Homo sapiens: one gene and its partners. The protein of the gene in region 1 interacts with the protein of each later gene in a biochemical or structural test. Each region holds a gene or a part of one and is shown in the gene's direction. Other genes may lie near its edges.

Region 1 (7,988 bases):
CACGTGTAATCTCAGCCTCAGCTACTTGGGAGGCTGTGGCATGATAATTGCTTGAACCTGGGAGATGGAAGTTGCAGTGCACTGAGATCACACCACTGCACTCTAGCCTGGGTGACAGAGTGAGACTCTGTTTAAAAATAAATAAATCTAAAAGTATGCATATATTTAAAAAAAATTCTGGATTTCCACCAACATAGCATTCTGCAGGGAGATAACATGAACTTTTCCCTAATCCTGGATACCCATCCACATCTCTGATGGCCAGGCATTTCTGGAGTGGGAGCAGAGGGGCATTTGTCCTTGCTTTTTTTTTTTTTTTTTTTTTGAGAGAGAGTCTCTGCCCAGGTTCAAATGATTCCTCTGCCTCAGCCTCCTCAGTAGTTGGGATTACAGGCGCCTGCCACCTTGCCTGGCTAGTTTTTGTATGTTTGTATGTATGTATGTATGTATGTATGTATGTATGTATGTATGTATGTATTTATTTATTTTGAGACAGAGTCTCGCTCTGTCGCCCGGGCTGGAGGCAGTGGTGCGATCTCAGCTCACTGTAACCTCTGCCTCCCAGGTTCAAGTGATTCCCCTGCCTCAGCCTCCTGAGTAACTGGGACTACAGGCATCCACCACCACGCCTGGCTAATTTTTGTATTTATAGTAGAGACGGGATTTCACCGTGTTGGCCAGTATGGTCTCGATTTCCTGACCTTGTGATCCACCTGCCTTGGCCTCCCAAAGTGCTGGGATTACAGGCACCTGCCACCTTGCCTGGCTAGTTTTTGTATTTTTAATAGAGATGGGGTTTTACCATGTTGGCCAGGCTGATCTGGAACTCCTGACCTCAGGTGATCTGCCCACCTCAGCTTCCCAAAGTGCTGGGATTACAGGCGCCTGCCACCTTGCCTGGTTAGTTTTTGTATTTTTAATAGAGATGGGGTTTCACAGTGTTGGCCAGGCTGATCTGGAACTCCTGACCTCCAGTGATCTGCCCGCCTCGGCCTCGCAGATGTCCTTGCCTTTTGTTTCTTCTCTATACCTTGAAAGTCTGTGCTGTGTTAAGGGCGTCATGCTCAGGCTTACTGATTCTGAAGGGGTTATCAGTGGATGATTCCGGATGTTGTGGAATATCAAACAGATCGAAAAGTTTCTTTAATAATAGTGATGGCACCTTGTGTTTAGAGTTCGCAGTGGCATTTACCAGATGCTCTCTGGCCACCTTCATGTGAACCTCCCAGCTGACTCGGGCCTGCTTTATCTGCCATCAGATTGTAATGGCAGCTTTGTGGAGGCCGCCCTGTAGATTATGCGATTAATGACCACATTCATGTGAGCAATAGTGCTGGCTTAGTTTTTTTCCAGTTAGGTTGTTTGGAATGGTAGCTGCATACCTGAGGGCAGTGCAGCAATGCCTTAGTTACGAAGGCAGTTTGCATTCCACAGGTAGAGTCTTTCCTTATGGCCAGGGCACTGATCCCTCACATACCAGAAAGTATCATTCGTCCCTGCCCCAGACAGACTCCAGATGCGTCCCAGTGGTGGTTCTTGGGATAGTTTTGTAGGAATTTCTGCAGAATTTTAGTGTTCAGATGAGTATGCTCTGTCTGTGGACTGGAGACAGGCTTCAAAGAATTCTCAAATTATTCTGCACAATACATCATTTTTTGGTATCTCTGCAGTTCCAAAGGTAACTACTTGAGGGACAGTGGCCACCAAAGAGCACAAGTTTTGACATTTTGATGAAAAGCACACATAAAACAAATAAAAACCACCTTTCCTTAAGTTACCTATTGAATTGTGCTTATTCCCATAAATGCATGTTCATCTGTTTGCTTAATAAAACTTAAAGCACCATAGAGTCTTTCTTGTTTCCTAGAATAAGGTCTTTTTTCTTTTCCTTTCTTGTCTTTTTTTGTTGTTGTTGTTGTTGAGACGGAGTCTCGCTTTGTTGCCCAGGCTGGAAGTGCCCTGTGGTGTGATCTTGGCTCACTGCAGGCTGCGCCTCCCGAGTTCATGCCATTCTCCTGCCTCAGCCTCCCAAGTAGCTGGGACTACAGGCGCCCGCCGCCACACTTGGCTAATGTTTTGTATTTTTAGTAGAGACGGGGTTTCACTATGTTAGCCAGGATGGTCTTGATCTCCTGACCTTCGTGATCTGCCCGCCTCTGCCTCCCAAAGTGCTGGGATTACAGGCGTGAGCCACCGTGCCTGGCCGGTCTTTTTTATTTTCAATTAAAAAAAAATATATATATATATGTATTTTTAAACAGAGATGGGATTCCGCCATGTTTGCCAGGCTGGTCTCAAACCCCTGGCCTCAAGTGATCCTCCCATCTCGGGTTCCCAAAGTGCTAGGATTACAGGTGTGAGCTACCACACCTGGCCTATTTTCAATCCTAAAAAAATCATTTGCGTGTTTCTTGATTTTAGGCACTGAACTAGACGGAGATGAGAATATAGAAATAATAAAATGGGGCTGGGCGCTGTGGCTCACACCTGTAATCCCAGCACTATGGGAAGTAAAGGAGCAGATCACTTCAGGTCAGGAGTTCGAGACCAGCCTGGCCAACATGGTGAAACCCCATCTCTGCTGAAAATACAAAAATTAGTCGGGTATGGTGGCGTGCGCCTATAATCTCAGCTACTCGGGAGGCTGAGGCAGGAGAATCACTAGAACCCGGGAGGCAGAGGCTGCAGTGAGCCGAGATTGTGCCACTGCACTCCAGCCTTGGGTGACAGAGCAAGACTCTGTCTCAAAAAAAAAAAAAAAAAAAAATAGAAAAAATAAAATGATGTCTCAACTATCAAAGACCTCGCAAGAAGCCTTAAAAATGATAAATAAGGCTAGAGATTTTGCTGTACCTTTGGAAAGTGCATGTGTGGTGGTTTATAGTACATATTCTGTGGCCAGATAAAATTTATATGATTATTTTTCCTCCCAAGAATATGAGATGACAGAGGGGGAGGAGCGTGGATGGAGACTAGGAGCCTTGGGCTCTTGTCCAGCCTTTCCCTGACCAACCCTGAGGTCTGGGACAATCAGCACAGAACTCCAGGTCTCAGTTTTCATATTTGTAAAATGAAGGACTTAGAGGACCTTCACCTTTTGCAAATCTGATAGCAACTGTGACCCCTTCCCACGAAGGGGGACAGCTTCATAGGCGTGGACCCAGATTAAGAACTGGATTATTCCATCTCTAAGCTCCCTCTCACCTGTGATATTCTGTAATCCTATTTTCCTGGTCATCTTTGAGCTAATAATAATGATGACTTGTATTTATAGAAGATGCACATTCCAAAGCACTTTCACCTCTCATTCTTTTGTCCTCAAAACATTTCTGAGTGGTACAGGTGGCAATAGATATTCCTTCCTGTGATGAAGAAAGTGGGCCAGGCTTGGTCAGCACGTTGATGGAGCAAACAGCCAGAGGCCGTCCTGGGACCAGAACTGGGGCTCCTGGTTGCCATCCTGGGGCTTTTCCATTAGGTTTTGCTTCCTTGGTGGTTGTCATTATGAGTTATGTTTGGCAGTTCAAATATCCCAGAATGTGTCACTCGTAGAGGAAACTATTTGTTCATCTGCCGGAAAGGACTGTTTTTCTCTCTGAATTTGGATCACTAAACACCTTTTCTGTATGTGAAAAGGCTACTTATTTGTTTTTGTTATTTTTTCTTGCCACATTTTTCATAGGGACAGTTTGTAGGGCTTGAGTGTTTTGAGCAGACTTATTTAATGCTTATTGATGAAAGAGTACATTAAAATGACTACTTCTCAGTTGCTTAGCACTTGAGAAAGTTGTGAAATAAATGTTAAGTAAAAATTCCAAATGTCTCACTTGTCCTATCCAAGTATGTCCTCACAGATGAGATGCTTTCTGCAGTCTAGGAGGCCCCTCCCTGGGCCCAGAGCCGCTGGGTGGGTTTGAAAGTTGGGTGTGGATTGTGCCAGTGGCCAGGACTGTCCAACAGTGGCTGCTTGTGGCCTTCTGGCTAGATTCCTAACATTTTATGGACTAATTTTTTTGGTTTATTGAAAGAGTACACATTCTGAGCTATATAAAGAGCTCATATATGTAAAAGAACACTGAACTTAGGCCGGGCGTGGTGGCTAACGCCTGTAATTCCAGCACTTTGGGAAGCTGAGGTGGGCAGATCACAAGGTCAGGAGTTTGAGACCAGCCTGGCCAATATGGTGAAACCCCATCTCTACTAAAAATATAAAAACTAGCTGGTCATGGTGGTGCGTGCCTGTAATCCCAGCTACTGGGGAGGCTGAGGCAGGCGAATGGCTTGAACCCAGGAGGCGGAGGTTGCAGTGAGCCGAGATTGTGCCACTGCACTCCAGCCTGGGCGACAGAGTGAGACTCTGTCTCAAAAAAAAAAGAAGACCACTGAATTTTAGAGCCTCACAGATGTTAGGTGGCTTATTTCTGATGAAAATAATCATAATAAAGATGTTTTTTATTTTTATTTTTTAAAAGAATACTTCTGATGTATTTCTGAAAGCTGTTTTGAATACTCAGACATGGAAGCTGATAGTACTGCACACAGCAGGCATCACTCAATGTGGAGTGTGTGTGGAGAATCCACCTGTCTTCCTGTTATGTCATGTGTGATGTGACTATTGATAGAGTTGCAGCCAGCTGGGGCACTCCATTAAGCTGCCCGTGGAAGTACCTGCTTTTTATTTTCATTTCACTCCCTGGACTGAGAGTGTTTGGAGGATATCTCAGTGGCTCATGTGGAGGGAGCATCTGTGGGTGGAAGGCAACAGGCAGGGTGAGTCAGAGGTAGTGGTCCTGGCCACTGCATGCCTGGTGCCCCTGGCTCTGCCTGCAGCTCTGGAATCCTGAGATAAAGATGATGGCTGCTCTGTAAAGGCAGCTCAGTATAGGCAGCAGGCCTGGAAACTTCTCTTTTCATTGTGGCGGTACCAGATAGTAGTGTGTACAAAGTACTGCACGACAGAGGAGGGCGGGTCTGACTGTCCTCAGGACACTACAGAGAGCTGACCTTCAGGGAAGTGACTTGGGAGGGATTGTGCCAGAGCCACAGGTGCTCTCCAGGTGGGGCTGACGTGAAGGACCATTCTGGGCAGAGCTACAGAGCTCTGAAGAACAAGGAGTGGCTGGGAGAGAGGGGTCACGCCTGTAATCCCAACACTTTGGGAAGCTGAGGTGGGCGGATCACTTGAGGCCAGGAGTTTGAGACCAGCCTGGCCAACATAGCAAAACCCTGTCTCTACTAAAAGTACAAAAATTAGCTGGGCGTGGTGGTTTGTGACTGTGAACCCAGGTACTCGGGAGGCTGAGGCAGGAGAATCGCTTGAACCTGGGGGCAGAGATTGCAGTGAGCCAGGATAGTGCTACTTCATTCCAGCCTGGGTGACAGAGCGAGACTGTCTCAAAAAAAAAAAAAAAAAGAACAAGAGGTGTGTGTGAGAGGGGCTGCTAGGGGCAGGGAAGGCTCCAGGTTATGACCTGCCTTATATTCTCCTGGAGGACAGTTCACTGGGGAGCAGTTTCTGGGTATTTAAAATACCGGGATGAAGATCTTCAGAGAAGCAAGATGTCAGTTGAGAAGTCAGGGATGCAGATGGGGGAGGGGTGATTCAGGTGACTCAATTTCACAAAGGTCACCTCTGTCTCTGGGAGTCTCAAGGATTGCCATCTGTGTTCCTAGGAAGCAGTGGCTCCACTCTAATGAGAAGGGCTTTTCGAGTGGGAATGGCCTCAGCCTTGACTCATTCTCTTAACCTGCATTTACGTGTTTGGTTGAGAATGCAGTAGCTGTGTGGGTTCTGCTTCTCTTTCTTTTTTCTTTTTTGAGACGGAATTTTGCTCTTGTCGCCCAGGCTGGAGTACAATGGTGCGATTTCGGCTCACTGCACCCTCCACCTCCCAGGTTCCAGTGAGTCTCCTGCCTCAGCCTCCCAAGTAGCTGGGATTATAGGCATGCGCCATCATGCCGGGCTAATTTTTGTATTTTTGGTAGAGATGGGGTTTTACCATGTTGGCCAGGCTGGTCTCAAACTCCTGACCTCAAACGGCCCGCCTGCCTCTGCCTCCCAAAGTGCTGGGATTTCAGGCATGAGCCACCGTGCCTGGCTGTTTCTCTTTCCATATGGTTTATGCTTACAGATCCTTGAGGTTAATATGTCACTTTCACTGTTAGTTCCTACAGAAGAAAGGTAATTTTGCAATAAGGTTTTGGAGGTTAGGAACATGGTTTTGGAGTCATACAGCCCTTGGGTGTGGGTTCGAGCTCCATCACTAGGTGACTGTGCGGCTTTTGGCCAAATGTTTCAATGTCTCCAAAACTTGAGTGTCTTAGTCAGTTGGGGCTGCTATAACAAAGATGCGGTGGCTTGTAAACAACAGAAATTTCCTTCTTACAGTTCTGTAGGCTGCAAGTCTGAGATCAGGGTACCAGCATGGTTGGGTTCTGAGGAGGGTCCTTTTTCATGTTGCGGATTGCTGACTTCTTATAGCTTCACATGACAGAAAGAAGGCGAGAGAGCTCTCAGGTACTTTTTATAAAGGCATGAGTGGCTGAGTGCAGTGGCTTATGCCTGTAATCTCAACACTTTTGGAGGCTGAGGCAGGAGGATCACTTGATGCCAGGAGTTCATGGCCAGCCTGGGTAACATAGTGAGACCCTATCTCAACAAAAACTAAAAAAAAAAAATTGTAAGGACACTAGTCCCATTCATGAGGGCCCTGCCTAATTAGCTTCCAAAGGCCCTACTTCCTAATGCCATCAAACTGAGGGGTAGAATTTCAACATATGAATTTTGAGGGGATCCATACATGCAGTCCTTTGCACCAGGATACTGAGAGCCCTTCCTCATAGGATTTTGGCGGGGCAGCATGAGGTGATGGACCCCAGGAGCCCAGCATGTGTGCCTGGTCACAGTGCTCATTCAGTCACTCTCCTATCAGTCTACGTAAGTGAATTTGCCAGCAAACTATACCTTTAAAGTGCCCAAAGTGATTTTATCCAGTTCTATTTAAAAATCCTTCCAGAACTTTTTGGACCTTTCCTTGGTGACTCGGGGTCACGGGTGTAGTCGCAGGTCATTGGTGTGGGTGAGGCCTCCTGCCCTGGCCCTGCATGGACTCCCCTCATATCCTGGCACTTACAGGGCCTGTCTTTCTCCCCACCACCTTTTGTAAGCTGCTGTTGGCACCTGGCCCTTTTGTTGGGGTAAGGGCCTGATGATGGTCATATCCTCCCTGGGTTTTGAGGGCAGCCTTGCCATGCAGAGAGGCCTTGCTCTCTTCTGGGTTGGTAATTCTCTGCCTGAGTTTAATGTGATGGATTCTAGAAAGCCTGACCCTGGGGTGAAGGGATGTTGCTTGACTACACGTAGTGACTCAGGATTGGAAGGGAGTACTGGTAATGATAGCTTATCCCTAGGTGATGGGAAATAGGACTTAGAAAGCAAATGATAAAGGTGTGAGCACTGCTCACCTGTGTGAAATTGTATTAAGATAACACGCAGCAGTGATAGTTAAGGCTTTAGAATTATAGGAAGTTTCTCCTTGTTTTCCACACAGTACCATTGCCCTTTTACTTTTAGATTAATGTTTAAGTAATAACTTTGTAATTAAAATAAGTATAAATAAAAAGAGCTTGGTTGTCTAGGCATTTGCATTTTACCAAGAAGCTTTCCATAGCCCTCATTTTGTTTTCAGGACAGCCTTGTTGATTTGTTTCCCTTTTCATTGTTTAGAGGAGAAAGAGAGTCAGAGCTAAAGGGGTGAGTGGTTTTGCCTGAGGCCACCTGCCAGGACCCCATATGGGCCTCTGAGCCCAAGCCCAGAGCGCCCAGGGAGGCCTGTGACGGGGCCTCTGCCTGGACCTGCAGGGTGGTCTTTAGATAGGATCAACTGTGTATTCTGAAGTTTCCTATTGAATGAAATGAAATCTTCTTAATGTAAAGTGATACCCAAACCGTAGTTTGTGAGCATTTTCATGTTTTAAACTGCATTTGT
Region 2 (5,810 bases), on another chromosome or scaffold:
TGAGGCCCCAGGGCCCCCAGCCCCACTCTACCAGCCACCCTCGTCCTTCCGAGGAGACCCACCCGACTGGCTTCCTCGGCCTTCCACTCTGAGCAAGCAGTGTCTTCTCATTCTCCCTCCACTTCTCTGTCGGTAAAATGGGCATCAGAGGCTGCTGCTGACTTCCCAGAGCTGCCTAGTGAATTTTGAGGTGGCTTCTTGCCTGGCTGCCAGCAGTGGGCTCAGATTCTCCTTGTGGTCCAGCTCACAGGACACAGTCGGCTCCACCTAGCATGACTGAGTGACTTCTGCCGGCTCAGAAAGTGCTCCGTGGGCATCAGCGTTTCAGCAGGGGTCCCACGCTGAGCCCAGGGGCAGCTTTTGTGCTCTAGCACTCCAGCACAGGGATGTCAGCATTCTCATGGGGGTCTTTTTCTAGCAACTGTGAGCATGCTTCCTAGAGGAGAAACCAATGGGGACAGGGGCCGCCTTGGCCCGGGGAGCTGCAGAAAGTTTTTACTTACCAAAAGCTTTCTATGCAATCCTGGAAAGAACAGGCCCTGGGATCACAGCCCTCCCAGGCCAGGTGCAGCCTACAAACCTGGTGTCCTAATAAACAGTGCTGCCCCACGGCCCAGGAATACAGCACCCGTGTTTACCTTGACTGTGCATTTCAGGAAAATGGTGCAGTGAGAAAAAAGGGCCCAAGGTTGTCCTCCCAGGACTGGGTCTGAGGGAAACAGCTCTGGCCTGCTCTTAACCTTTATCTATATTGCTTACTTCATTGGGCCTCAGTTTCCCCACTGGGCATTACTCACAGGATGCAAACTGGGCATCCTGTGGGCTGGAGTGCAATGGTGTGATCTTGGCTCACTGCAACCTCTGCCTCCCAGGCTCAAGTGATTCTCTGTCCTCAGCCTCCCGAGTAGCTGGGGCTAAGGTGTGCACCACCTCACCCGGCTAATTTTTGTATTTTTTGTAAAGATGGGGTTTCACCATGTTGCCCAGGCTGGTCTTGAACTTCTGAGTTCAAGCTATCCACCTGCCTTGGCCTCCTAAAGTGCTGAGATTGCAGGTGTGAGCCACTGCACCCAGCATCAGACCATTATATTAAAAACAACAACAACAACAAAAAACTGCAAAATTTAAAAATTAAGAGATTCCCTATGAAAACCCAGATTTCTGGCTTTTCTTGAAAAGTTGGAAGCTCCAGGCAGTGCAGGGTCCGGATTCCTGCCTGGCAGCCCTCAGGTGGGGTGAGTGGCAGCTGCCCCCTTACACGTGGGCATTTGCTCCCTGTTCTCCCCAGTCTCTACCCCTCCCTCACTGAGAGGCAACTGCTGTGTAAGTGTGATAGGGCTTGGGCGGCAGCCTTTCTGCACCTGATCCTGTTTCACCCATTTGTTTTCCTGCCTGCCACCTGTGGGTATTTGAGTTTATAAACCCTGTGTCTAGTGGGGAGTAGGAGTCTAAATGCCTAGTTCTGGGCCCACCCTGGCCCGTTGTCTCATTTCTGCCACCAGAGCGGCAGGCGCAGGCTGTGAGGCTCACCGATGTCCCTCCTGACCCTCCCTCCCCGCAGTGGGCCACCACCATCCTGGACATTGAGCGCTCCTTCCCCGTATTCCTGAGGAAGGCCTTCCGCTCTGGGGAGATGGTCACCGTGGGCAAGAGCTCGGACGGCACTCCTGACCGCAGGTGGTGCTTCAGGTGAGGCTGGGGCAGTGGGGCCAGGATGGCAGGGCGGAACTGTCCCCACTGGCTCGGGGCCCCTGCTGCTCCAGCGTCGTCTACCCATTGCAATTTCTGGAGCCACTGAGGCCCCAAGAGGCCCGAGCAGAGTTCATTTCCACCAGGCGATCTCAGGCAAGTCAGCCCACCTCTCTCAGCCTCAGTTTCTTCATCTGTGGAATGAGACAATGATCTCACGGGCTCCTAGGCTGGCGGTGCGGATTAGACAGGTCAGCACGTGAGAAGTGCTCAGCCAGTGCCCGACGCGCATCGGGACGCCACAGGCTCCCCTGTTCTTGCTCAGGGGGAAGCAGAGACTTGGATGGTGGGTTCATTTTAGAGCATCACCCTGTATCTACCAAACAGTGGGGTGAGCTCTAGTGCCCTCGGTGAAATGGGAAGCTGAGGAATGTGCAGTTTCCAGGGCTGGAGACCTCACCCAGCCCATCTGCAGAATGACTCCGTGTTCCAGAGGCACAGGGAGTGCCAGCTTCTTAGGGGAACCCCTTCATGAATCTTTTCTTTCCAGTTGATTCATTCATTGTAAAGTGGTTGTCAGCATGGAGCATAAGCAGAATGTTTGGAGTCAGACAAAGTCAGTTTCTTCATCTGTGAAATGGGAACAATAATAGAACCCACCTCCTAGGCCATCCGATCAGTTCAATTCCATTTTTTGTTTGTTTTTAGAGGCAGGGTTGCTCAGGCTGGAGTGCAGTGGTGTGATCATAGCTGACTGCAGCCTCCAACTCCTGGTCTCAAGCGATCCTCCCACCTCAGCCTCCTCATGCCACCATGTCCGACCAATTTTTAATTTTTTTGTAGAGATGGGGTTCTTGCTATGTTGCCCAGGCTGGTCTCAAACTCCTGGTCTCAAGCGATCTTCCCACCTCAGCCTCCCAAAATGCTGGGATTACAGGCGTGAGCCACCACACCCAGCCTCTGTTCAGTTTGAATCCAAAGCTCAAATCTTGGCTGGGTGTGGTGGCTCGTGCTTGTAATCCCAGCACTTTGGGAGGCCAAGGTGGGTGGATCACCTGAGGTCAGGAGTTTGAGACCACCCTGGGCAACATGGTGAAACCCTGTCTCCACTAAAAATACAAAAATTAGTCGGGAGTGGTGGCATGCACCTGTAATCCCAGCTACTCGGGAGGCTGAGGCAGGAGAATCGCTTGAACCTGGTAGGTGGAGGTTGCAGTGAGCCGAGATTGCACTACTGCACTCCAGTCTGGCGGACAGAGCAAGACTCTGCCTTAAAACAAACAAACAAAAATGAATAGATAGGATAAAAAATTAAAGATAATATGTAAAAAAAAAAGATAATATATAAAAAAATGAGTGGATAAACAAAATGTGGGCTATGTGTACAGTGAAATATTATCTGGGCCAGGCGTGGTGACTGTAATACCAACACTTTGGGAAGCGAGGCAAGAGGATTGCTTGAGCCCAGGAGTTCAAGACCAACATAGTGAAACCCCATCTCTACAAAACGTTTTTAAAAAATTAGCCAGGTGTGGTGGCATATCCCTGTAATCCCAGCTACATGGGGGGCTGAAGTGGGCGGATCACTTGAGCCTGGGAGGTCAAGGTTGCAGTGAGCTGTGATCGTGCCACTGCACCCTAGCCTGGGCAATGGAGTGAGACCCTGTCTCAAAAGAAGGTTAAAAAAAATAATTTCTGCTTGGGGGAATGGAAGAATTTTGGAAATAGATAGCTGTGATGGTCACACAATGTGGATGTGCTTAATGCCACTGAATTGTATACTCAAAAATGATTAAGATGGCAAATTTTTTGTGTGTGTATACACACACACACACACACACACACACACGTCTTTTTTTTTTTTTTTTTGAGATGGAGTCTTGCTTTGTCCCCCAGGTTGGAGTGCAGTGGCGTGATCTCGGCTCACTGCAACTGCCTCCCAGGTTCAAGTGATTTTCCTGCCTCAGCCTCTCGGGTCACTGGGACTATAGGCACCCGCCACCATGCCCCGCTAATTTTTTTTTTAATTTTTTTTAATTTTTAGTAGAGGTGGGGTTTCACCATGTTGGCCAGGCTGGTCTCGAACTCCTGACCTCAAATGACCCACCCACCTCGGCCTCCCAAAGTGCTGGGATTGCAGGCATGAGCCACCACGCCCAGCCTTGTTATGTATATGTTACCATAATAAAAAAATAGGAGGGTGTGCTGGGGATGGTGGCATGGAGAGCGTCTCTGAGGGGTTCCCCATGACCCTCTGCTTGGGCCCTGCCAGGGTGGATGAGGTGAACTGGTCTCACTGGAACCAGAACTTGGGCATCATCAACGAGGACCCGGGCAAGAATGAGACCTACCAGTATTATGGCTTCTCGCATACCGTGGGCCGCCTCCGCAGGGGTGAGTGGAGGGGCGGGTGCGGAGGGGAGCCCCAGTCCATTCTCATCACGAATTTGCTTTGAGCAGTCCTGCTTCTTTCCGGGACTCAGTGTCCGTGTCTACAGAATGAGAGAGTGTGCCCCTGAGCTTCCTCTGCTGCTTGTGAATGCCTGGGGCACCTCACCTACGTGGCTTCATCCTGGCCCTCCCTACTGTTGACATAAGCTGGCCTGGGGAGGGAGGACGAGCTCCTCAGCCATCCCTGTGTGGAGAAAACCTTCCTGTTTGTCCAGTAAGCCATGAGCACGCGAGACGCAGCTGGAGAGGACACAGGCACTCAGGGCATTCGGCTCCAGGCTTGAATCCTGGTTCCTCCATTCTCTCCTGGGGAGGCACCTTGACCTCTCTTGAGCCCCAGTTTCCACCTCTGTAAAATGAGCATAGTCACATCCCCCCTTCAGAACACTGTGGAGTGCCCAGTACACAGTAGGCACTCAATATACGCACGCTCTCTCTCCACCAACCCCCACCCCTCCCTCTGATGTGCTCTCGGTGCAGATCGCTGGTCCTCGGTGGTACCCCGCGTGGTGGAACTGAACAAGAACTCGAACCCGGACGAGGTGGTGGTGCCTCTGGACAGCATGGGGAACCCCCGCTGCGATGGCCACCAGCAGGGTTACCCCCGCAAGTGGAGGACTGATGACGCCCCGCTCTAGGGACTGCAGCCCAGCCCCAGCTTCTCTGCCCACTCATTTCTAGTCCAGCCGCATTTCAGCAGTGCCTTCTGGGGTGTCCCCCCACACCCTGCTTTGGCCCCAGAGGCGAGGGACCAGTGGAGGTGCCAGGGAGGCCCCAGGACCCTGTGGTCCCCTGGCTCTGCCTCCCCACCCTGGGGTGGGGGCTCCCGGCCACCTGTCTTGCTCCTATGGAGTCACATAAGCCAACGCCAGAGCCCCTCCACCTCAGGCCCCAGCCCCTGCCTCTCCATTATTTATTTGCTCTGCTCTCAGGAAGCGACGTGACCCCTGCCCCAGCTGGAACCTGGCAGAGGCCTTAGGACCCCGTTCCAAGTGCACTGCCCGGCCAAGCCCCAGCCTCAGCCTGCGCCTGAGCTGCATGCGCCACCATTTTTGGCAGCGTGGCAGCTTTGCAAGGGGCTGGGGCCCTCGGCGTGGGGCCATGCCTTCTGTGTGTTCTGTAGTGTCTGGGATTTGCCGGTGCTCAATAAATGTTTATTCATTGACGGTGGAGATGGCAGGATGATGGCAGGGGTGGGAGGGATGGTAACAGGCATGAGACTGCAGCGAGGGAGATGGGAGAGCTAGGAAATGCCTGGGGGGAGCCAGGGGCAGGGGTGAGAGTGAGGGCAGAAGTCCTGACCGGGAGGCATTTAGAGTGTTGGTGGTTGGGGGCTGGACTGGGTGGTTGTGATGGTGGTGGTGGTGGCCTGAGAGGTGGCTGAGGTTGGTGTGGCTGTGGGGAAGGTGGGGGTGGAGGGAGGAGAGCAGAGTGATGCTGGTGGGGGTAATAATGCTGGCCAGGGAGAGTCATGTTGGCAGGGCGAGAGTGATGCTGGTGGGGGTGACAGTAGTGCTGGCTGGGGGATAATGATCCCCATGGAGACAGTACATTTGGGCAGGGGAGAGTAACGCTGGCCAGGGGTTGACAGTGCAGGTGCGGGGACTCTGGTGCTCATCAGGGGACAATTATACTGGGAGGGCTGTCCTGCTAGGCGGGAGGATGGTTGC
Region 3 (7,000 bases), on another chromosome or scaffold:
ATACAAACAGGTGGTGGGCCAGGTTTGATCCCTGAGCTGTAGTTTGCCAACCCTTGTTGCAGAAAATAAGTGAGATTCCTGCAAAATGGGGAGCCTGGCACATCAGCACTGAAAAAGTAGCAGCTGCAGTTACTTTTGCAGGCGCCTCTTGTCACTACCGTCCCAGGGCATACAGCAGGCAGGTGGCAACACTGGAGTCTATGTTCTACCCTCTGTGCTGTGCTGAGCACAGTGCTGGGTCTCCTCCTCACTCTCGCCCTCCTCTGACCCACCTTAGAGCTTGCACTGTGGGACGACCTTTGCATTAGCACCTGTTTATGCCAAGTGCTACATGGGTTGGGGAGTGTTATGGTGGGGGCAGGAATAGGGGAGATAATCCTGCCCTCAGGGTGCTGTGCTGTCTAGATGAACACCTAGGAATTTTTTTTTTTTTTTTGAGACGGAGTCTCGCTGTGTCACGCAGGCTGGACTGCAGTGGCACAATCTCGGCTCACTGCAACCTCTGCCTCCTGGTTTCAAGCAGTTCTCCTGCATCAGCCTCCTGAGTAGCTAGGACTACAGGCATGTGCCACCACACCCGGCTATTTTTTTTTTTTTTTTTTGAGATGGAGTCTCACACTGTTGCCCAGGCTGGAGTGCAGTGGCGCAATCTCAGCTCACTGCAACCTCTGCCGCCCAGGTTCAAGCAATTCTCCTGCCTCAGCCTCTCGAGTAACTGGGATTACAGGTGCCCACCACCATGCCGGGCTAATTTTTGTATTTTCAGTAGAGACAGGGCTTCACTATGTTGGCCAGGCTGGTCTTGAACTCCTGACCTTGTGATCCACCCACCTCAGCCTCCCAAAGTGTCGGGATTACAGGTGTGAGCCACTGTGCCTGGCCTTTTCTTTTTTTTTTTTTTTTCGCGACAGTTTTGCTCTTCTTACCCAGGCTAGAGTGCGGTGGCATGGGCTTGGCTCACCACAACCTCCACCTGCTGGGTTCAAGCGATTCTCCTGCTTCAGCCTCCTGAGTGCTCGCGCCACCCTGCCCGGCTAATTTGTGTATTTTTAGTGGAGACAGGGTTTCACTATGTTGGCCAGGCTGGCCTCAAACTCATGACCTCGTGATCCTCCCACCTTGGCCTCCCAAAGTGTTGGGATTACAGGCGTGAGCCACCACGCCCGGCCTATAGGAATTTTAAAAACTATCTCAGGCTGAGAAATACCAGGCCAGGTTGGAGATGAGAGCCATCAGAGCAGCAGGTCCCTTGGCGCCCCTGAGCTCTCCCTTCTCTTCCCCCCAGGCTATGACTTTGCAGCCGTCCTGGAGTGGTTCGCGGAGCGTGTGGACCGCATCATCCTGCTCTTCGACGCCCACAAGCTGGACATCTCCGATGAGTTCTCGGAAGTGATCAAGGCTCTGAAGAACCATGAGGACAAGATCCGCGTGGTGCTGAACAAGGCAGACCAGATCGAGACGCAGCAGCTGATGCGGGTGTACGGGGCCCTCATGTGGTCCCTGGGCAAGATCATCAACACCCCCGAGGTGGTCAGGGTCTACATCGGCTCCTTCTGGTCCCACCCGCTCCTCATCCCCGACAACCGCAAGCTCTTTGAGGCCGAGGAGCAGGACCTCTTCAAGGACATCCAGTCACTGCCCCGAAACGCCGCCCTCAGGAAGCTCAATGACCTGATCAAGCGGGCACGGCTGGCCAAGGTAGACCCTGGGGTGAGGGGAGCAGCCTATTGCCAGGCAGGGCCATGGGGCTCTGAGACTGGCACTCAGGGCCCCAGGATTGCCCGAGACCCTTCCCAGCTCACTTCACAGGCAGACCTGCACTGCGCTGTTTCCCTCTATAGAAACCAGTCTTTGGTCAGCACCCGCGTGCAGCCTGCTCTTAACTAAGATTCTCTACCCGGCCTCCCTCTAAACCTGTTCTGTTTGTGGTTTATACCCCATCTACTTTCAGGAAGGGTTTGACTGTGCTTACAACACAGAAACAGCACACAGGAAGTTACCGCTGAAGCAAAGGAGGCAGCCTCAGAAATGGAGTGTTGGGGGATAGAGCTCTAAGGCTTGTTGGCTTCCCTCTAGGGTTTTTTGTTTTTGTTTTTGTTTTTGAAGCGGAGACTCGCTCTGTTGCCCAAGCTGGAGTGCAGTGGCATGATCTCGGCTCATAGCAACCTCCACCTCCCAGGTTCAAATGATTCTCCTACCTCAGCCTCCCGAGTAGCTGGGATCACAGGCACGCACCACTATGCCCAGCTGATTTTTGTATTTTTATTAGAGACAGGGTTTCACCATGTTGGCCAGGCTGGTCTCAAACTCCTGATCTCAGGTGATCTGCCCACCTCAGCCTCCCAGAGTGCTGGGATTACCCCTCTGGGGTTTACTGAGCCTGAAGTGCACTCAGCACAGTGCTGGATGCCGGGTACTGGCGGGGAGTGACACACAGCCCCTGTCCACTCCTCAGCCTTCATGGGGAAAGCAGAGCACGCAAACAAAAAATAAACATCAGTTATTTGTGTCGTCTCGGAGCGAGCACAGGCTGCTGCGGGAGCTGGCGCTAGGGGCTGTCCCAGTGGAGTAGAAGGGCTGGGGGGGCCTGGCAGGAGCTGAAGCTTAAGCTGTGACAGGAAGCAGCTCGTGAGGAGACAGGGTGCCAGCCTGCAGCCCGGGGAGCACTGTGCATGGAAGCCAAGGTCACGCTGAGGCAGTGTCAGTTCAGCAGGCCTTGCAGACCATCCTTAGGTCTCCTGGCAGCCCAGGCCTGGTGGCACCTATCAGCAGCCTCTGAATGGCCAAAGGGTTTGGAATCTCAGTGGCTGACCAAGTACTTGAGTGAGAGCCGGTGTGGGTGGGGCCAGGAAACAAAGGTTAATGCCACCAGCGGGCCCTTCCAACACAGAATGACAGAACACATGCCCTTGGCGTGTCTGACTTTGGATAGCACCCTATCGTGAGCCAGCCTAGACGAGTCACCATGAGTGACAGTCCCGGCTGTGGTTGGGGTTGACCCCGTGGACAGGAGTGTTTGACACAGATTGTCTGAACAGCTGAGAAGTGACCAAGCCCACATTTGTATCAGCAGGGCACCTAGCTATTCTTTCAGGCTCTTAGCACAGGGCTCGGTTGTTTCAGAAATAGGCTCCAGCCAGGCATGGTGGCTCATCCTGTAATTCCAGCACTTTGGGAGGCCAAGGTGGGTGGGCGCATCACCTGAGGTCAGGAGTTCGAGACCAGCCTGGCCAACATGGCAAAACCCCATCTCTACTAAAAAAAATACAAAAATTAGCCGGGCGTGGTGGTGCGTGCCTGTAATCCCAGCTACTTGGGAGGCTGAGACAGGAGAATCACTTGAACCCAGGAGGGAGAGGTTGCAGTGAGCTGAGATCACACCACTGCACTCCATCCCAGGTGGCAGAGCAAGACTCTGTCTCAAAAAAAAAGAAAAGAAATAGGCTCTGGCCAGGCATGGTGGCTCACGCCTGTAATCCCAGCACTTTGGGAGGCCAAAGCAGGAGGATCCCTTAAGGCCAGGAGTTAGAGACCAGCCTGAGCAACCTAGTGAGACCCTGTCTCTATTTAATTTAAAAAAAAAAAAAAAAAAAAAGGCCCTTGCCGTAGCTCCTATCTCCAGGCCAGCCAGGCCGGAGCGTGGCTGGGGAACTGTCCTGCCTGCCAAGCCAGGCCCTTTGGTGATACGTCCCCAGTTCTTCAACAGAGCAGGGTGCTTGCCCCCACCTCATGGCATGCAGGGGGTACCAGGGTAGACATCATGTGGGCATGAAGGCTTCAGTGACAGATGTGCCTGTGGCCAGGGTCACAGTCCCCTGATCTCCAGAATATAACTGAGGACTGAGGATGGGCACTTCCTGGGGAGCCCATGTCCCTGCCTGCTCAGAGGCATGGAGACTGCAGGCGTTGAGCACAGTGGCCCTCGTACCCACTCTGTCTGGAGGCCAGTCAGAGGGCATGTGGGTGCTACCTGGTCTGAGCAGTGAGAACTGACCCTTCATCCTTTGCCACCACTGTCCTCCCATTGTGCCCCAAGTACCCTGGGCCCCACCTCACCCTGTAGATGAGGAATTCTCATTCTGGCCTGAACCTCCGTGAGCTGTGTGCACGGGCGTGGGTCAGATGCCGGCTCTGGAGGACAGAGGGCTGCGTGTTTTTCTTATTTTTAATTTTATTATTTTATTTTTTGATTTTTTTGGAGATGGAGTTTCACTCTGTTACCTAGGCTGGAGTGCAGTGGCGCAATCTCGGCTCACTGCAACCTCCGCTTCCCAGGCTCAAGCCATTCTCCTGCCTCAGCCTCCTGAGTAGCTGGGATTGCAGGCGCCCGTCACCACACCCAGCTAATTTTTATATTTTAGTAGAGACGGGGTTTCACCATGTTGATCAGGCTGGTCTCGAACTCCTGACTTTAGGTGATCCGCCTGCCTCGGCCTCCCAAAATGCTGGGATTACAGGCGTGAGCCACCGCGCCCGGCTGGCTGGATGTTTTTCTAGATCTCTCCCTTCTGGAGCCTCCCTGTGAGTGGAGCCAGCTTTGAGAGAGGAACCCATACAAAAACCCAGGTGACTGACCCTGGCCTCAAAGGACAAAGGACGTCCTGAGCTGAGGGGTGTGGGTGTGGCCCTAGCTGAGTTTCTCTCCTTGCAGGGCAGAGAGAGCTCCCTTGCTCAGCCACCTTTGAGGACAGACAGGACAAGGGGCAGGCATGAGCCCCTGCCTGGTCGTCTGTGAGACCATGTGTGACTGCCAGGCCCCAGGCACACTGAGTCACCGCGCCTGGAAAACCCTGTGGCCTCCAGTGTTGCCTCACACCTGCCACTTCCTTTTCCTGGAGTGAGTGGTGCTCTCTGTGATGACTCCCACCGGCCTGGGATCTGCCTGCCACAGTGTCCCTGGGGAGACTCTAGATCCAGACCCACATGGCACGGGGCTGCCTCCCTCAGGCAGTTCTCAGCCAGGCCCCCACCCAGGGCACAGGCTCAGGCTGAGCGGGGTGGTGGATGGGCTGGAGCCGGGGAGAAGGGCAGCAAGGCTGGCTGGCCGCAGCCCTCTGTGGCTGGACACGACTTGGCAAGGCCGAGGGATCTGAGGGCTGGGCTACTCTCGAGGGCTGCCAGGTTCCCAGCTTGCTGCAGGGAAATGAAGGGGGTGCCGCCCTGAACAGGCACATGCCTAAGCAAGGTATTGATGCTTGGATAAAGCTGGCAACCACCAGGAGAAGCCTTTTTGGGATTTTTCAAATCCTTCGTCATCCGAGCTGTGATGATGGAGTGGAGCGTGGCACGGGCCCATTGGAGTTCTGTGGGCTCCATCGGCACTCAGCAGGGATTTGGACGTGCAGGCTGGTGGGCCCTGCAGGAAGCCTGCTCCCTGCTCTGCTGCGTGGGAGGGGGCAGCTCGGGGGAAGGGGGCTTGCAGAGAAACAGAAGAACATGGGCTGTGGGGCACCTTCAGCAGCCCGGGGTTCCAATCCCAGCTCCTCCATGTGGGAGCCAAGCACCCCAGGCAGCCTTTCCCAGCCTTGCTTAGGGCCGGGTTGGGAGAATCCCACCCCGCAGGGCTGTGGTGAGGGTTGAACGGAGGGTGTGTGGTGAGGGTTGAGCGGAGGGTGTGTGATGCGTGGTGAGGGTTGAGCGGAGGGTGTGTGATGCGTGGTGAGGGTTGAGCGGAGGGTGTGTGATGCGTGGTGAGGGTTGAGCGGAGGGTGTGTGATGCGTGGTGAGGGTTGAGCGGAGGGTGTGTGATGCGTGGTGAGGGTTGAACAGAGGGTGTGTGATGTGCCCAGTGGTACACGACAAATTGCCTTCTTTGGGTTGACAGACTGGGTTTTACTCTTCCTGAATCATCACAATGATCCGTGCAAGGCCAAGGCTGTTGTCTTCTGTTTCAAGTGCGTTTTCCTGTCCTGTCCTCTGTCCTGTGGCAGTGGACAGCTGTGGCTCTTGCCAGATTGTGTCTGCTCCTAGGACTGTGGGAGCCGGTGGTGGTAGCGGCCTTGAGCTTGACCCATCCCTCCTGCTTCCCTGTTCCTGAGCGAGCACCTTGGAGTATCCTTGGAGTGTCCTTGGAGGCTCTGCTCTCGGGGGCAGCCTGGGCCAAGAGAGCGCCTGATGCTCACCCCGTCCTCACAGGTTCACGCCTACATCATCAGCTCCCTCAAGAAAGAGATGCCCAATGTCTTTGGTAAAGAGAGCAAAAAGAAAGAGCTGGTGAACAACCTCGGAGAGATCTACCAGAAGATTGAGCGCGAGCACCAGATCTCCCCTGGGGACTTCCCGAGCCTCCGCAAGATGCAGGTACGGCTGTCCCGAGGCCCCATGCAGGCTGGTGGCCATCAGGGCAGAAGGAAGGCCCAGGGCACTGGATTTGGAGGGAATCCCATCTCCATGGGGAAGGGCCTCCCTGAACGGAAGCAGCTGGGTTAATCACCAGCACCCCACCCAACTCAGAGTTGACCCAGGCGGTGACACTGCAGAGGGGAATGTGGTGACTCACCCTGCGTGGTGGGGGGAGGGCAGGGCCATGCCAGGCGCTCTGGTGCCCTGTCCATGAATCCTTGCCGCAGCCCTGCAAGGAAAGAGCTGGAGGTGCCTCCTGTGTACAGGTTAGAGAGCCAAGGGCCAGATGGTTTTGCCGAGTCGCCCCTGCTAGTGTGGGGGAGCAGCACTTTATGCTTGTGAAGCCCTGACTGGAACCACTTGGCCTGGAGTCTGGGAGGGGCCTCCCTTCCCAGCCCTTGTCCTTCCTCCCCCGCCCACAGGAACTCCTGCAGACCCAGGACTTCAGCAAGTTCCAGGCGCTGAAGCCCAAGCTGCTGGACACGGTGGATGACATGCTGGCCAACGACATCGCGCGGCTGATGGTGATGGTGCGGCAGGAGGAGTCCCTGATGCCTTCCCAGGTGGTCAAGGGCGGCGCCTTTGACGGCACCATGAACGGGCCGTTCGGGCACGGCTACGGCGAGGGGGCCGGCGAGGGCATCGACGACGTGGAGTG

The links.
Region 2: the proteins of PACSIN2 (region 1) and TRPV4 interact in a test that uses a peptide from one of them, tested with the Homo sapiens proteins (one study listed by BioGRID).
Region 3: the proteins of PACSIN2 (region 1) and EHD1 form a complex in vitro, tested with the Homo sapiens proteins (one study listed by BioGRID).

What each region holds. Positions count from the first base shown.
Region 1 is NC_000022.11:43,004,645-43,012,632, reverse strand, and holds part of PACSIN2 (protein kinase C and casein kinase substrate in neurons protein 2), read left to right. Parts: intron 1-7,988.
Region 2 is NC_000012.12:109,782,589-109,788,398, reverse strand, and holds the end of TRPV4 (transient receptor potential cation channel subfamily V member 4), read left to right. Parts: intron 1-1,502; coding exon of another isoform or gene 1,503-1,523; exon of another isoform or gene 1,524-1,561; coding exon 1,562-1,689; intron 1,690-3,961; coding exon 3,962-4,083; intron 4,084-4,620; coding exon 4,621-4,778; 3' UTR 4,779-5,310; downstream 5,311-5,810. UniProt on the Homo sapiens protein: Non-selective calcium permeant cation channel involved in osmotic sensitivity and mechanosensitivity. Activation by exposure to hypotonicity within the physiological range exhibits an outward rectification.
Region 3 is NC_000011.10:64,854,622-64,861,621, reverse strand, and holds part of EHD1 (EH domain-containing protein 1), read left to right. Parts: intron 1-1,285; coding exon 1,286-1,698; intron 1,699-6,135; coding exon 6,136-6,300; intron 6,301-6,764; coding exon 6,765-7,000. UniProt on the Homo sapiens protein: ATP- and membrane-binding protein that controls membrane reorganization/tubulation upon ATP hydrolysis. In vitro causes vesiculation of endocytic membranes. Acts in early endocytic membrane fusion and membrane trafficking of recycling endosomes.